3 linked regions of the Homo sapiens genome follow. The protein of the gene in region 1 purifies or fractionates together with the protein of each later gene. This does not show direct contact. Each region holds a gene or a part of one and is shown in the gene's direction. Other genes may lie near its edges.

What was found.
Region 2: the proteins of WDR81 (region 1) and CHIA purify together in Homo sapiens (co-immunoprecipitation; one large-scale study listed by IntAct). This does not show direct contact.
Region 3: the proteins of WDR81 (region 1) and UTP4 purify together in Homo sapiens (tandem affinity purification; one study listed by IntAct). This does not show direct contact.

What each region holds. Positions count from the first base shown.
Region 1 is NC_000017.11:1,731,204-1,734,703, forward strand, and holds part of WDR81 (WD repeat-containing protein 81), read left to right. Parts: coding exon 1-55; intron 56-1,121; coding exon 1,122-1,287; intron 1,288-1,462; coding exon 1,463-1,628; intron 1,629-2,323; coding exon 2,324-3,013; coding exon of another isoform or gene 3,014-3,027; intron 3,028-3,500. UniProt on the Homo sapiens protein: Functions as a negative regulator of the PI3 kinase/PI3K activity associated with endosomal membranes via BECN1, a core subunit of the PI3K complex.
Region 2 is NC_000001.11:111,314,851-111,317,956, forward strand, and holds part of CHIA (acidic mammalian chitinase isoform c precursor), read left to right. Parts: intron 1-419; coding exon 420-585; intron 586-855; exon of another isoform or gene 856-1,022; intron 1,023-2,830; coding exon 2,831-2,955; intron 2,956-3,106.
Region 3 is NC_000016.10:69,153,149-69,156,648, forward strand, and holds part of UTP4 (U3 small nucleolar RNA-associated protein 4 homolog), read left to right. Parts: intron 1-435; coding exon 436-532; intron 533-1,244; coding exon 1,245-1,309; intron 1,310-2,722; coding exon 2,723-2,845; intron 2,846-3,500. UniProt on the Homo sapiens protein: Ribosome biogenesis factor. Involved in nucleolar processing of pre-18S ribosomal RNA. Part of the small subunit (SSU) processome, first precursor of the small eukaryotic ribosomal subunit.

The sequences.
Region 1 (3,500 bases):
TCAGCCATGAGGTCCTGCTGCCCGTGCTCAGCTTCCTCACCTCCCTCGTCACGGGGTAGGCCTCTGCCCCAGCTGATGTAGGGGGACCGGCCCAGCGGAGGGGCTGCCCAGGAGGGGGTGGGAAGCTCAGGGGAGAGGACGTAACACTGGACTGGGTGTCAAGAGTCCTGGTTTTGATCCCGGCTGTGTGACCCTGAGCAAACCACACCCTTTTCCTGTGCCTCAGTTTCCTCATCTGGTTTGGACCAGTTGGTCTTGGAGCTCTTTCATTTAAAGCTTTTGATATGTCCGGGCACGGTGGCTCATGCCTGTAATCCCAGCACTTTGAGAGGCTGAGGCGGGAAGATTGCTTGAGCCCAGGAGTTCAAGACCAGCCTGGGCAACAAAATGAGACCCCCTCTCTAAAAATATATATAAAGGCCGAGCGTGGTGTCTCACCCCTGTAATCCCAGCACTTTGGGGGGCCAAGGCGGGTGGATCACGAGGTCAGGAGTTTGAGACCCACCTGGCCAACATGGTGAAACCCCGTCTCCACTAAAAATACAAAATCTTCGCTGGGCATGGCAGCAGGTGCCTGCAATCCCAGGTTCTCGGGAGGCTGCAATCCCAGGTTCTCAGGAGGCTGAGGCGGGAGAATTGCTTGAACCCAGGAAGCGGAGGTTGCAGTGAGCTGAGATCACGCCATTGTACTGCAGCCTAGGCGACAGAGCAAGACTCTGTCTCAAAAAAAAAAAAAAGTATATATATATGCTGGGTGCTGTGGCTCATGCCTGTAATCCCAGCACTTTGGGAGGCCAAGGTGGGTGGATCGCTTGAGGTCAGGAGTTCGAGACCAGCCTGGCCAATATGGCAAAACCCTGTCTCTACTAAAAATACAAAAAAAATTAGCCGGGTATGGTGGCTCATGCCTGTAGTCCCAGCTACTCGGGAGACTGAGGCAGGAGAATCGCTTGAACCCGGGAGGCAGAGGTTGCAGTGAGCCGAGATCGCACCACTGCACTCCAGCCTGGATGACAGAGCAAGACTCCATCTCAATAAAAATAAAAATAAATAAAGATTTTGCTAGATTCTGGTCAAGTCCTGCAGAACGGCGGGCTGGAGCTCATGAGCTCTGTTTCCAGGTTCCCAAGTGGGGCCCAGGCTCGGACCATCCTGTGTGTGAAAACCATCAGCCTCATCGCCCTCATCTGCCTGCGCATTGGACAGGAGATGGTCCAGCAGCACCTGAGCGAGCCCGTGGCCACCTTTTTCCAGGTCTTCTCTCAGCTGCATGAGCTTCGGCAACAGGTGGGCAGATCTGCTGGGCCAGGGCGGGCTGGGGCGGGGGCTGTGGACCTGGGTGACCCCCTGGGCATCTTGCTCATAGGATCTGAAGCTGGACTCCGCGGGCCGTGGCGAGGACCAGGGTGGGCCAGGGTGGGAGCTGTGGACCCGGCTGACCCCCTGGGTGTCTTGCTCATAGGATCTGAAGCTGGACCCTGCGGGCCGTGGTGAGGGCCAGCTGCCACAGGTGGTCTTCTCTGATGGGCAGCAGCGGCCCGTGGACCCCGCCCTGCTGGACGAGCTGCAGAAGGTGTTCACCCTGGAGATGGCATACACAATCTACGTGCCCTTCTCCTGCCTGTTGGGTACTGCCCCATCACGTTCCCCATCACAGTCTTCGTGGCTGTCTCCTCCCTTGGGAGGCCCCATTCTCTGCCCTTGCCCCAGAGTCAGCAGTGGGTTCTAAGAGCCAGCAGGATGGGTGAGAGCAAAGGGATTTGGCCTCAGACCCCTACCCCCAAGGTGACACACAAACAAGGACTGAGCAGTAGCCAGCAAGAGAGGCCCAGAAGCTGGCCTGTAGTGTCCCTGGGGAAGGCAGGAGAGTCAGGGAGGTGGACTGGCGGTCCGCAGGAGCTGGCGAGAGGGAAGGAGTGGCCTCCTGTTTACGAAGCTTCCCCTCTGGGCCCTGCACGGTGCTGTGCTGATCGTTTCAGCGTGTCATCTCCCTGGAGAGGACAGACAGCCTTGTGGTTACACCTGTTATCATCCTGCCACTGAAATCTAAGCTTGGGAGGCCAGGGCACCACCTGTCTTGTTCCATATTCTATTCCTAGTGCCCAGCACGGCACGGCACATATAGAAGATGCTCATGTGTACATCACAACGGAATGAATCCACATTTCACTGAGGAGGAAACTGAGGCTCAGAGACAGAGTTACTTGCCCAGAGTTGCAGAGCCAGTTCCTGCCCCATCTTCTGTGGCTCCCGAGTCCTTGGATGGGTGATAGCAGCCGCCTGCCATCTTCCCTGTCTCAGGACCTCTCCCACTCCTATCCAGGTGACATCATCCGGAAAATCATCCCCAACCACGAGCTGGTTGGGGAGCTGGCGGCGCTGTACTTGGAGAGCATCAGCCCCAGCAGTCGCAACCCTGCCAGCGTGGAGCCCACCATGCCCGGCACCGGGCCCGAGTGGGACCCCCATGGTGGGGGCTGCCCTCAGGATGACGGCCACTCAGGGACCTTTGGGAGCGTCCTGGTGGGGAACCGCATTCAGATCCCCAATGACTCTCGGCCTGAGAACCCCGGACCACTGGGCCCCATCTCGGGGGTGGGTGGCGGGGGCCTGGGCAGCGGGAGCGACGACAACGCCCTGAAGCAGGAGCTGCCGCGGAGCGTGCACGGGCTGAGCGGAAACTGGCTGGCGTACTGGCAGTACGAGATCGGCGTGAGCCAGCAGGATGCCCACTTTCACTTCCACCAGATCCGCCTGCAGAGCTTCCCGGGCCACTCGGGGGCCGTCAAGTGCGTGGCACCCCTAAGCAGCGAGGACTTCTTCCTGAGCGGCAGCAAGGATCGTACCGTGCGCCTCTGGCCGCTGTACAACTACGGCGACGGGACCAGCGAGACGGCCCCACGCCTCGTCTACACCCAGCACCGCAAGAGCGTCTTCTTCGTGGGCCAGCTTGAGGCCCCGCAGCACGTGGTGAGCTGTGACGGGGCTGTGCACGTCTGGGACCCCTTCACAGGTGAGCGGGCCCAGGTGAGGCCTGTTCTCTTCCTGCTCCTGCGCCCCACCAGGCCTCCAGGAAGGGGGCCCGAGGGTGGGGCTGTAATGCTGCGGAGTTTGGGGAGACCCAGCGAGGCCGCCTAGGAGAACAGTTAGGGCTTCGAATCTGTTAGACTTGAGTCTGAATTGGCTCCACCGGCTTACTTGCTGAGTGACCTTGAGCAAGTTCCTGCTGCTGGAAGCGTCTCCTTTCCCATCTATAAACTGAGAATCAGAAAAACTGGCGTAGAAGATAACACACAGCCGGGCGCAGTGGCTCACGCCTGTAATCCCAGCACTTTGGGAGGCTGAGGCGGGTGGATCACGAGGTCAGGAGATCGAGATCATCCTGGCTAACATGGTGAAACCCCGTCTCTACTAAAAATACAAAAATTAGCCGGGCGTGGTGGCGGGTGCCTGTACTCCCAACTACACAGGAGGCTGAGGCAGGAGAATCTCTCAAACTC
Region 2 (3,106 bases), on another chromosome or scaffold:
TCTTCTTAAAGTATTTCAAGAGTACAAACCCTGAGGACAGTGTTATAATGCTTCCCTCTATTTATCTTCTGGTGGGGGGAGGAATGAGAAAATCACACAAATAAACAAGAGGACTTCTTGGAGGGTACATGTTTGGGGAGGGAACACAGTGTGCTGGGTTTGCCAGGTATCCAAAGAAACAAGGGCAACTTGGGAGAAAGAGCAGAGTTGGGGGGATAACAGAATAAAGGGAATGTTAAGATACCATGGCTGGGAAGAGTAGTGATTACAAAGGAAGGAGAGGAGAAAACCAAGAACATGCTTTACTCTGGGCTGTGGGTCCTGATGAAGGGCTCTGAGGCAGGAATTGAGAGCTTGATTTTACTCCAAGGTGTTGGGACCACCAAGGTCTCACCCTGCCTTCTTTGGGTCTCCCTCAGTTTCACTGCCATGGTTTCTACTCCTGAGAACCGCCAGACTTTCATCACCTCAGTCATCAAATTCCTGCGCCAGTATGAGTTTGACGGGCTGGACTTTGACTGGGAGTACCCTGGCTCTCGTGGGAGCCCTCCTCAGGACAAGCATCTCTTCACTGTCCTGGTGCAGGTGGGGAAGGAAGTCCCAGTCTTTAGCCCAAAAAGATTCAAAGTCTTTCTTTCCGAGGAGAATTGGGTGGCTCTAGGGTAAAACAAAACTTGAATTTAAACTGATAGAATATTAGCATTGCAAAGAGTCTTATATATCGTGCGTTCATTAAACAAACATTTAATGGCAACAACAAAGCAACATGTGAGCTCTGTGCCAGGCACTGCTCTACATGTTGTTTTAAGAACCATAACTCATTTCATCTTCATATTTACTCTATGGCATACATACTATAAGTGTTATAATCTTTATTTTACAGATGAGGAAACTAAAGTACAGAGAGGATTTAAGCAACTTGCCCAAGATCACACAACTAGTAGGAATCATAACTTCCTCTGCAGTTTGGCCACAGAGTCCATTGCTTCTAAGCATTACACTAGGCTGCCCGTTATTACTGAGTACATATTCTGTGGCAGACATTGTCAGGCTAAATATAAGAATAAGACACTATCCTTGGCTTTGAAGAACTTCTTCTGAGGTGGAAGACTGAAAGAATATGAACAATGGCAATGCATTGTGATAAATGCCATGTTAGAGGTCTGCAGAGTACAAAAGTAACAAGGAAAGAGGGTAACTAATTCTGCTCTGGGGCAGGATCAGAAAGTGTTTCCTAGAGAAAGTGATGCTTGGGCTCAGTCTTGAAAGAAACTGGTGTTAACCAATTAAGTGAGGATGGGAATGGCACAAATGATATACAGATAAGTGTGAGCAAGTGGGTGATAATGGCTGTGAAGTTGCATGAAGAACCAGATAATGTGAGAACTTTTATATTATGTTCAGGAATTTGCACTTTACCTTTGACACAATGGGACTGTTTTGAAGAATTTTAAATAGTAGAGAGCTGGCTTTTACCATAGAGGATAAATTAGAAGGAGATGAGAAGTCATGGATAGAATTAGGAGGTTATTGCAGTAAATCAAGCAAGAAATGATCAGGGCCCCAACAAAGGCTCTAACACTGAGGGAAGAAGAGGATGTATATAAGAGATATCAAGAGGATAGAATCAATAGGATTTGGAGATCAACTGGAAATAGGAAATGGAGAGGACCTCCAATTTTCTGACTTTGAGGATGGGTTTGATTTTAATGCTATTAACTAAGATGGTAAATACAGGAAGAAGTGTAGATTTGAAAGAAGAAGAATTGACCTTGAACTTGATGAGTATGAGGTATCTGTAGAGCATCCTAACAGAGTGCCCAGTAGGCATCAGATAAATATCAATCTGGAGTTCAGGACAAAAAAGCTTGATATACTTGGTTTTTAGACTTACTGTCTCCCAAGACAGATTGTTTGCTATTCCATTCTATGTAACAGATCGTCACCCAGCCTCTGAATAGTTTCAATGTTAAGTAATAGGTGAAAAGTCAATTTACTTACTTGTTGAATTGCCCTAATGATCATAAAGGAATATCTCTTTCTTGGCTGGAACATGCCTCTAGTCATAATTTATAACTTCTGGTCATTGTTTCTAGTTCTTCCTGCTGAAGCAACAGAGAATAAGACTGCATCTTTTGCAATATATGGGCTTAATGTCTTAAGACAGCTGTAAATACCTTGCCTATAATTTCTCTTATTCCAGTTAAATATCTTAATGCCTTCAATCAATAACCGCATGACAATTTTCAGAGCCAGCCTTCACTGGAACATACTCTGGCGCACCCTAATAGTGCAATTATAAGAACTAAACCCAGTACTCCAAATGAGATTACAGTCGCACAGATACAGGTGGATTAATCTCTAGTATTGAATGGGAACCTATCATCTAGCTGTTACCACCTTCCTTATTGGCCAATACACCATTTTATTTGATGGGATGTCAGTCCTATAAAGTAGTTCATCTACTTTATGAAACAAATTTCTATACTGCTGGATGTAGGGTATCACTGCAACTAGAGCTTCAAAGTATAGAGATACAATGGAGCCCTGATGGTCATCTGGGACCTGGGTTTTGGTCATGACCTACCTACTAACTCAGTGTGGGACTTTGGTGAAGTGTCCTAACTCTTATGCATATTAGATAGCCAGAAAATTCAATAATATTATCTATCCGATCTACTTTATTTGGTTGTTGAGAGACTAAAGTAAAATAAAATATGTGAAAGCAATTTAAGAGAGAGAAGCATTATACAGACATATGTTTATTAGTATTATTTAAGGAGCTAAAATCAGCATCATAGATGTCCTATTATGCCTTATTATTCTGTAGGAAATGCGTGAAGCTTTTGAGCAGGAGGCCAAGCAGATCAACAAGCCCAGGCTGATGGTCACTGCTGCAGTAGCTGCTGGCATCTCCAATATCCAGTCTGGCTATGAGATCCCCCAACTGTCACAGTGAGTGATGTGCCTTATCTTCAAACTCCTGGAGGTGTCACTCGGGCACACTAGACTTGTCCTTGGTCTGGCTTGCTATTCAGGGACCTTGTTTAGGAGACTTTAGAAGTGGTGTCCTGTGCCTGCATAGGTGTGGGAAATGACCATCAGA
Region 3 (3,500 bases), on another chromosome or scaffold:
GAGCTATGTCACATGCCATCACCCTCCTCAGAATGTTCTGCCCTGCCTCCTTCGCCTGACTGGTCTTTCCCAGTGAACCTCATCTGGGCTTCTGTATTTACCACCACACAGCTAGGTTAGATGTCCTGTCTCCTTATTTTTCAGTACATACTGTGTTTAGCCGTGTTAAAATTCTTGGCACACTGAAGTCTAATTGCTGATTTAATTCTGTGTCACCCCTTTAGAAGCATGTTGAGAGCAGTAGCTATGTTTTAATTCATCATCGTCTTCATAGATCTCAGGGCAGTGCCTGGCATATGGGAGTACTTAGGAAATATTTATCAAGGAAATGGATTTCAGCAGTAAAAAATGTGCTAAGGTGGTGCTACTGTATCTGGTACTAAGGCAGTAGATGACCCTGACTTATTTTTTTAACTTCTTGATTCTTGGATATAGCGATGTCTCATCTCCTGTTCTAAAAAGAGGCAGCTTCTCCTCTTCCAGTTTGCTCATCACTTAGAACTTTGGCGACTGGGATCCACAGTTGCAACAGGTAAGATGGGAGCACGTTTTTTTCAATAAGAAAACTGGAGAGAGAAGCCAGAAATCAGAATTGCGGTTGGAATTCTGCTTATAGAAAAACTGAAGTAGACTTTTGTGTCCATTTTAACTAATGGTTTTCCCACCCATTAGATAAAGCAAATAAGCTGTTTAGAGTATTAGAATCTTTAGCAGGATATTGGATCATCTCTTAAAAGTTTATGGCTCTAGGTGGTGCGCTGCAGGGTGTAGTCAAGGTAAGGGTTGAAGAATCGTAGTTTGCGCTAGCTTAACTGAGGTGAAAACAGGCTGTTGAAAAACAACAAGATTTAATGATGGGTAATGATAATCCTGTAGAAAAAGAAGATCACATGGATCTTATTGGAGTGACAGCCTAGTGGCCTTTTTGACTTATTAAGGAAATGTTTGAGTCCTCTCATTTGCAGTGGATTAAAATCGAGGCCACACAAACTCCACCTGTGTCCCTGGCTATGGACTAGAGCTTCAGGGAATTAGTGATGTATCAGAGGATAGAAGCAAAAGAAGTACTCACTGCTTTCTCTTCATATACCCCTCAAAAATTGTGAGCTTACTCAGTGAGCTTGTATTTTTCTGATTTCCCACTGATAGAGATTCCATTTTTCCAAGGAGTAACTTTTTAGAAGAAAAATGTACAAATACTCTTTCTTTCATAAGAAAAATCTCAGGGAAGTTTCTTGTTTCAGGCAAGAATGGGGATACTCTTCCACTCTCTAAAAATGCAGATCATTTACTGCACCTAAAGACAAAGGTAAGGAAGTTTGTTTAGGCTCTGAATTCTAGAGCCTGAATTCTAGGCTCATAATTCCCATTCTGAATTTTGAGGTTACTTAGTTTGCATCATAAATTGTATAAATTCTAAAACTATTTGAATGAAGGACTGTGTCACCAGGACTGGGTTTCCTGTGATTATAAGTAGGACGTTGAGGATTTATTAGATGGATGTATACAGGAAATAGGTTTCTCTTCTTTTGATATTATTATGAAAATAATGTGCTTTTATTTATTTATTTATTTATTTATTTATTTATTTATTTTTGAGACGGAGTTTCACTCTTGTTGCCCAAGCTGGAGTGCAATGGCACCACCTCAGCTCACCGAAACCTCCGCCTCCTGGGTTCAAGCGATTCTCCTGCTTTAGCCCCCCAAGTAGCTGGGATTACATGCATGCGCCACCACGCCCGGCTAATTTTTTGTATTTTTAGTAGAGATGGGGTTGGTCAGGCTGGTCTTGAACTCCCGACCTCAGGTGATCCGCCCGCCTTGGCCTCCCAAAGTGCTGGGATTATAGGCGTGAGCCACCGCGCCCAGCCATGTGCATATTTTTAAAAACTCAAATAGTACAAAAGGGTATACAATGAAAAAAAAATCATTTTGTGAGTTTTTAAAAACTACATACATGTTACATTCAACTTTTCTTTATTCTCCAGATTCTTTTTTGTTTGGTTAGTTGGTTGGTTTTTTTGTTTGTTTGCTTACTTTTTTGAGGCAGGGTCTCATTGTGTTATCCAGGCTGGAGAGCAGTGGCACGGTCACGGCTCACTGCAGCCTCAACCTCCCAGGCTCAGGTGATCCTACCACTTCACCCTCCCAGGTAGCTGGGACTACAGGTGTGCACCACCATGCCCGGCTAATTTTTTGTAGAGTCAGGGTTTCACCATGTTGTCCAGACAGGTCTTGAACTCCTGGGCTCAAGCAATCCTCCACCTCAGCCTCCCAAAGTGCTGGGATTACAGGCATGACCCACTGTACCTGGCCTTCAAATGTTCTTCATTTGCTATTTCTTAGAAGTCTTTAAAGCAGAACGCCGTACACAAAACAGAAAATAAGTACTTCAAACCACCTATCCTCCAGAGCTTTCCTTCAGTAAATGCCTCCCTGCTCAGGTTTCTGAAGTTGGGGTCTAGTATGAGGCTATCTATGAAGTATTCAAAGGGCCAAAATAAGAATAGACCTCCATTCTTGGATTTGGAAATCAAAGCCATGCCTTTTAGGTGCTCTGCCTCTGAAATAATCATATTAATGCAGACCACACGAGGATCGAGATTATGTGTAGATATCTGTGGGTATGTCCAGAGTGGCAAGAGCTTGAGGCGTCATGTCCCAGTGCACCTTGTTATGTGAAGTTTAATTGCACATTCATCTTGATTCCTGATATTGCCAGGGTCCTGAGAACATTATCTGTAGCTGTATCTCCCCATGTGGAAGTTGGATAGCCTATTCTACAGTTTCTCGGTTTTTTCTCTATCGGCTGAATTATGAACATGACAACATAAGCCTCAAAAGGGTAAGTGATAGTCCAATATCTGGTCACATAAGAGGAAACTTCCTAAATATGTCATTTTTGTGTGAAGTGGAAATCAACTGGATGTGAATCCTTGCTCAGTTAAAAACTATTTGGAGATTTGGAGAAGGCTGTTATGAAACAGTGTTTTATTTCTTTCTTTCTTTTTTTTTTTTTTTTTGAGACGGAGTTTTGCTCTTGTCACCCAGGCTGTAGTGCAATGGCACAGTCTTGGCCCACTGCAACCTCCGCCTCTTGGGTTCAAGCGATTCCTGTGCTTCAGTCTCCCGAGTACCTGGGATTACAAGCACCCACCACCACACCTGGCTGATTTTTGTATTTTTAGTAGAGATGGAGTTTCACCACCCGTTGGCCATGCTGGTCCTGAACTCCTGACCTCAAGTGATTCACCCGCCTCAGCCTCCCAAAGTGCTGGGTGCTGGCATTACAGGCGTGAGCCACCGCACCCAGCCTTTTTTTTTTTTTTGACCGAGTTTCACTCTTGTCACCCAGGCTGGAGTGCAATGGCACCACCTCAGCTCACCGCAATCTCTGCCTCTCGGGTTCAAGCCATTCTCCTGCCTCAGCCTCCCGAGTAGCTGGGATTACAGGTGCCCACCACCAGGCCTGGCTACTTTTTGTATTTTTAGTAGAGATG